Linked DNA regions of Homo sapiens: region 1 is linked to region 2. The links come from fine-mapping of genetic effects on gene expression. A gene starts in region 2. The other region holds a variant in brackets. All regions are shown on one strand. Distances are between the middles of the regions.

Region 1 (2,853 bases), 27 kb before region 2:
TTGCATATTTAGTAGAGACGGGGTTTCATCATGTTGGCCAGGCTGGTCTCGATCTCCTGACCTCAGGTGATCCACCTGCATCAGCCTCCCAAAGTGCTGGGATTACAGAAATGAGCCACTGTGCCTGGCTAGACATGTGTCTTTTTTTTTCCCTTCTGTATATAACAGGGTCTCACTATGTTGCCCAGGCTGGTCTCAAACTCGTGGCCTCAAGCAATCCTCCTGCCTCAGCCTCCCAAAGTGTTGGGATTACAGGCGTGAGCCACTGCACCCGGCTTGTGTGTGTCTTTCTGTATCTGTTGTGTGTGTCTGTGGGTAGTGGCTGTTTCCCTGCATGGGACATTGTGGTAAATGTGGCTAATTCCCTGTGTGGGGGCTGCTGCCTGTGGATAAGACTGTGTCTCTGTGCATGCGCACGTGTGTGCACGCCCCTCACAACCCCAACGAGAAAACACCTGTCCACCTTCCTGGGCTGGCACAGGGGCACAGGAGGCGGGATCCCAAATCACAGGCTTTTTCTCTCGGCATATCTCTGTACTTTATTGTCCCTGCTGTAACAATGCTCATCCTTCCTGAGAGCGTCTCCTGAGGGGGCCTCGGCCAAGGCTGACTGGAGAAGGGGCTGGTGACCCCTAGCAGGCTCTGCCACCTGAGGCCTGGGTCTTCCCCCGGGATCCTTGAATCTGGAGATGGCAGAGAGGAGGCAGGCCGGCTCTTTCCCCAATCCTCCTAGGAGAGCTGCTTCTGCCCATTCTCCCACTGGTGAAACGGAGGCAGAAGCAGCAGCTCAGCAGGGTGAAGCTGGGTTTAACCTTCCTGAATGGGGTCCAGGGACACTCCACATCTGCCACATAGCCTCTTGGGCTGGACATTTTTCCTGGGCACCAGCCAGCAGCTGGAGCAGCGAGTGCCGTATTTCTTGTACCTAGGGTTGGGGGACAAGAAACTGCCATTTAGGATGCAGTGGGGGCCCGGAAACCGCCACAAGGAAACCACTTTTCCCAAGAGGTAGGTGTTTTGCTTTTTGCTTTCCCCACAGGCCATCCTGGTTACACGTGGACTGATTTGGGGACCCCCGCCCCAACTCCCTCCTCCATTCTAAGGACCTGATCCCACAGGCGTTGCAGAGAGGGGTCCCATCTTCAGCGTCTCTCCAGAGCGGGGTCCTCTGGGTCCGACAGGAAGCACAGCGCCGGGGCTCTGAAGGGTCAGAGGTCAAAGGGCAGGGGTCAGAGGCCAAGCATGTGAGCTCGGGATGCCTGTGCGGAGTCGGGCATTTTGTGGGGGTCTCAGTAAAGGCCCCACCTAGCTCTGGATCAGCCCTGGGAGTTGCCAGCTCTAAGCCACAGCAAAGCCAGGAAGGGAGACAGATGGCAGCATTCCGCAGAGGAGGAAGCTGGGGGTGGGGGTGACTCAGCCCAAGTGGAGGGGGGTGCTGCGACTCCTCCCTGAGGGCTCTAAATGGGGAAGCAAGATGGAGAAGG[G/A]GGGGGCAGGGAGAAAGGCAGGGAAGACAGGAAATTGGCCCCCAAAATATTTATAGCTCTTGGGTTTTCAGGACTCACCCAGGGCCTCGCTGCCTGCTGAGTGGGCCTCGGTGCCTCCTGGGTGGGCTGCAGGGCCCCCAACAGCATCTGCAGGGGATTCCTGAGAACGGCTACTGCAGGGCAGGCTGTGGGGCAGACAAGGTATTAGCACTGGGGGGGATCTGTAGCTTGTCCCCAACAGCCCTCCGAAATGAAGATTTAGTATCAAGGTATCAGCCATCCCCCGAGGAGGCAACTAATATCTGAATGGCCTGGCTTTGCCTCTCATTAGTAATATTATTATTATTATTATTATTATTTTTGCAGATGGAGTCTCGCTCTGTTGCCCAGGCTGGAGTGTAGTGGTGTCATCTCAGCTCACTACAACCTCCACCTCCCGGGTTCAAGCAATTCTTGAGCCTCAGCCTCCCAAGCAGCTGGGACTACAGGCGCGCGACACCACGCCCAGCTAATTTTTGTATTTTTAGTACAGACGGGGTTTCACCATGTTGGCCAGGCTGGTCTCGAACTCCTGACCTCAAGTGATCCACCCACCTCGGCCTCCCAAAGTGCAGGGATTACAGGCATGAGCTACCGTGCCCGACCTAATTATTATTATTATTATTTGAAAAATAGTAAGCACAGGGACAGCCTGCCAGGTTCCAATCCCAGTTCTCCATGTCCTTGCTGTGTGAGCCTGGACACATTATCTCCTACTCTGTGCCTCAGTTTCCTCATCTGTAAAATGGGCTTCCCAATACAACAGTTTTTTTTTCTTTGAAAATTTGATTTATTGATTTTTAAAAAGAGATGGGAGTCTGGGCAATATAGGGAGACCCCGTCTCTACAAACAAAAAAAATAGCCAGGAGTGGTGGTACAGGCCTGCACTCCCAGCTAGTTGGGAGGCTGAGGAGGGAGGATGGCTTGGGCCTGGGAGGTCCAGGCTGCAGTGAGCCATGATTGCGCCACTGCACTCCACCCTGGGTGACAGAGCAAGACCCTGTCTCAAAAACAAACAAACAAACAAAAGCAAAAAAAAGCAGCCAGGCATGGTGGCGGCTCACTCCTGTAATCCCAACACTTTGGGAGGGCAAGGCAGATGGATCACCTGAGGTCAAGAGATCGAGACCATCCCGGCCAACATGGCAAAACCCCATCTCTACTAAAAATACAAAAATTAGCCAGGCGTGGTAGCAGGCACCTGTAATCCCAGCTACTCCAGAGGCTGAGGCAGGAGAATCGTTTGAATCCGGGAGGCAGAGGTTGCAGTGAGCCGAGATTGTGTCATTGCACTCCAGCCTGAACGACAGAGTGCAACTCCATCTCAAA
Region 2 (2,901 bases):
AACCTGCATGAACCTCCTTTTGCAAGATTCACTGTTTCCAACAACTCTGTAAGTGAAGTATTAACAAACTCATGTTGTATATGAGAAAACTTAGGCTAGGAGAAGTGAAGAGATCTGCTGGAGGCCATGCAGTTGGGCAGCGCAGCCACCCATGGGTACCTGACTGGGGAGCCCACCTTCTAGTAAGCCCCACGTTGTGTGGGTTCACATGCCTCCCAATTTCCTCCTGCTGATAAAGCTGCCCTCTTCCAAGCCAGCTCATTTATTTTTCTTTTTTTTAGAGATAGTGTCTTGTTCTGTCACCTAGGCTAGAGTGTAGTAGCACAATCATAGCTCACTGCAGCCTCAACCTCCTAGGCTCAAGTGATCCTCCCACCTCAGCCTCCTGCGTAGCTGGGACTACAGGCACGCACCACCATGCCTGGCTAATTTTTAAAAATTTTTTGTAGAGATGAGGGTTTCACTATACCGCCCAGGCTAGTCTCGAACCCTTGGGCTCAATACAGCCTCTTGCCTCAGCCTCTCAAAGTGCTGGGATTAAAGGGATGAGCCACCATGCCCAGCCTCTCAAGCCAGCTTTGAAGGCAAAGTGCTGGCGCCTGCTGGGACCAGACACACTGTGCATCTTGCAGGAGAGACAATGTGTTCCCAGCTGAGAGACTGCAGACACTGAGAGGAAGACCCAGAAAGAAACCTGACCATCCTTAATGATCCCTGTCCCGATCTGTCCCCAAATTCAGCCCCTCCCAACATCCCTGGGGTTCCACTAGCCACGTGCCCACCCGGTGTGCTGGTGGGCCGGAGAGCAGGGAATCTCAGCAGCAGGAAGCGAGAACCTATTTCACCGCCATAGGGCAGGGCAGTATAGATGCCATTTCCCTGGGTCCAAAGAGCATTGGGAAGCGCTGCCCCATGCTGGCCCCATGAGAAGGGCACTCCTAGCAGGAAGATTAGCCACGAGGGGCTCCATAGAACACAGGCCTCGCTTCCTTCCTGTAGGTCTGTAGGCTGGTGGCAGAAGACCCCATTTTCCCAAATTAATCCTGAGGTTTTGGGGGCTGAGACCCAGGGGCTGCTGTTAACTTCCGGATTTATCTCTGAGAGCAGTGAATAAACGCGTGATATGGAGGGGCGTACTCTCCGCAGTCCTGAAACTTCTGGATGTGAGGTCCCGCCACCCTGTGGTAGAGTGGGTGGAGAAAAGCATCATCCAAGCAGGGGGCAACTGGTGGTCCAATGTACCAGCCCATTCACAATTCCCCAACAGGACCAAAGCTGTCCGCCCCCTTCCATTCCCCGCCCGCTTCCATCACTTGGTGTCGCCCAAGCCTGTGGTCGCCCCTAGCAACGCCCTCCCTCACTTCGCAGTCGGTTTCCCCTTTCATCATCGCCCCCCCACGTCCCGCTCTTGGTCTCTCCCGATCCCGCGTGGATCCGGTGCTTGGGCGCCCCCGCCAACGACCCCCGCGCACCTCAGCGTTGGTGTCGCCCGGTTCCCCCCGCGCACGCGCACCGTGGTATTTCCCGCCACGCTCCTACACCGCCCCCCCCAATACCTGGTTGGTCACGTCCCCCGGGAGGCCCCGGATCAGTATCTTGCGGCGGTTACGGAACTGGCGCTCGGTGTGTTCCAGGCGTTTCCGGATCTCTTCTGGATCTAGAGGCGGCAGCTCTTCTTCCGGCGCCCGGCGCTCCGCGGCATCGCCGGCTTCGACTTCGGCCCCAGACTTAGGGCTCAGCGGGGGCCGGTGAGTAACGGACACGTCCGCCGCCATCTTGGGAAACCCGGCGCCTTCTGGGACCAGCGAGCCGGGGCGGAGCGGCATAGAGCGGCAACGAGGGCGCGCCCGTCGATTGGCTGGGAGAAACCCCACCTCCTTCCCGCCCCCCTTGCCCCGTTGGCTAAGCCCCAGCCCACCTCTCAAGAGTTCAAGCTGCGTCTGCGCGCCACAGGCCCCGCCCCCTTCCGTCGCAGCGACGCTACTCAGTGGATGTGCACCTGGGTGGGAGAGACTTGCAGCGCGGGTGGAATCAAACCACAGATTAGGGAGTTTGAAGGCTTTATTGGTGCGGAATCTGAGGGCACAGCCAAGCCCCCGCCAACTTTGATCCCGGATCCCAGCGTCACTCAGCTCTGGACGGTTCTTCCCCCATTGCTTCTGTCGGCTGCATAGACGTGAGGGGCAGATAGGTGCTCTCCTCCCTAACATGGTAACTGCCGCTCCGTTGGTGCTCCCTGAAGACGTACATTAAGGCCAGTACGATAGTCACCACGCCCAGGGTCAGTAACACCGCCACGAAGACGGGGACAAAGTGGGAGCTCCCAGCTGTGCAGAGAAAGCGCTAAGTCAATATGCGTCCCTTCTGTCTCCAACCCCCCCGCCCCCCGGCTTACCGGTCCAGACCCGCAGCCCCGTGTTAGCTCACCCTCAATGTCCATCACCACGACCAGGGTGTATTTGCCTCGTGAGCTGGACGCTTGGCACTGATAAGTACCATTATGTGTTACGTTGACGAAGAACGGGATCCCCACCGGCACCTCCCGGCTGGAGCCTTCCTTCAAACACCGCAGCTCGGGGTACGGGTTGCCCCTGGCTTGGCACTGCAGGACGTGTCTCGTTTTATCTTTCCATTTCAAGTGCTGGGGGCATGTGGCTCGGTCAATTTTGGGACCATCTGTGGAACCACCATGTGTGATCAGACACCCAACACACCCGAGGCACAGTGGTGCAGAGGAGCGTCTAATCTTTCCAGGGCAGGGGTGGAGGGATTAAAGGTCAGGGTGACCGACTCACACAGGACTCGCAGCTGGACGCTACTGTTCCTGTGCAAGAACTCGCCGTCCACCTCGAGAGTGGCACTGCAGAAGAAGCTGCGTCCGTCGTCACTCTCGGTAGCATT

What was found.
Region 1: its variant is fine-mapped to the expression of RAVER1 in whole blood (TOPMed, PIP 0.95).

Annotation. Positions count from the first base shown.
Region 1 is chr19:10,304,284-10,307,136 of GRCh38, forward strand. It overlaps ZGLP1 (zinc finger GATA like protein 1), which reads right to left. Exons shown (of 5, transcript NM_001409033.1): 3 at 1,563-1,669; 4 at 1,107-1,200; 5 at 520-925. The coding sequence ends at 808. FDX2-ZGLP1 (FDX2-ZGLP1 readthrough) reads right to left here. Exons shown (of 9, transcript NR_176052.1): 7 at 1,563-1,669; 8 at 1,107-1,200; 9 at 520-925. Among named protein-coding and RNA genes, the nearest start is that of ZGLP1, 4.1 kb to the right of the region's middle. RefSeq lists an enhancer at 579-1,778. The variant G/A (reference allele first, on the strand shown) is at 1,485.
Region 2 is chr19:10,331,733-10,334,633 of GRCh38, forward strand. It overlaps RAVER1 (ribonucleoprotein, PTB binding 1), which reads right to left and starts at 1,797. Exons shown (of 13, transcript NM_133452.3): 1 at 1,557-1,797. The coding sequence starts at 1,775. ICAM3 (intercellular adhesion molecule 3) reads right to left here. Exons shown (of 7, transcript NM_002162.5): 5 at 2,796-2,901; 6 at 2,428-2,676; 7 at 2,044-2,327. The coding sequence ends at 2,125. RefSeq lists enhancers at 274-1,190, 1,191-2,107, 1,598-1,817, 2,058-2,197, 2,822-2,901 and a silencer at 1,202-1,425.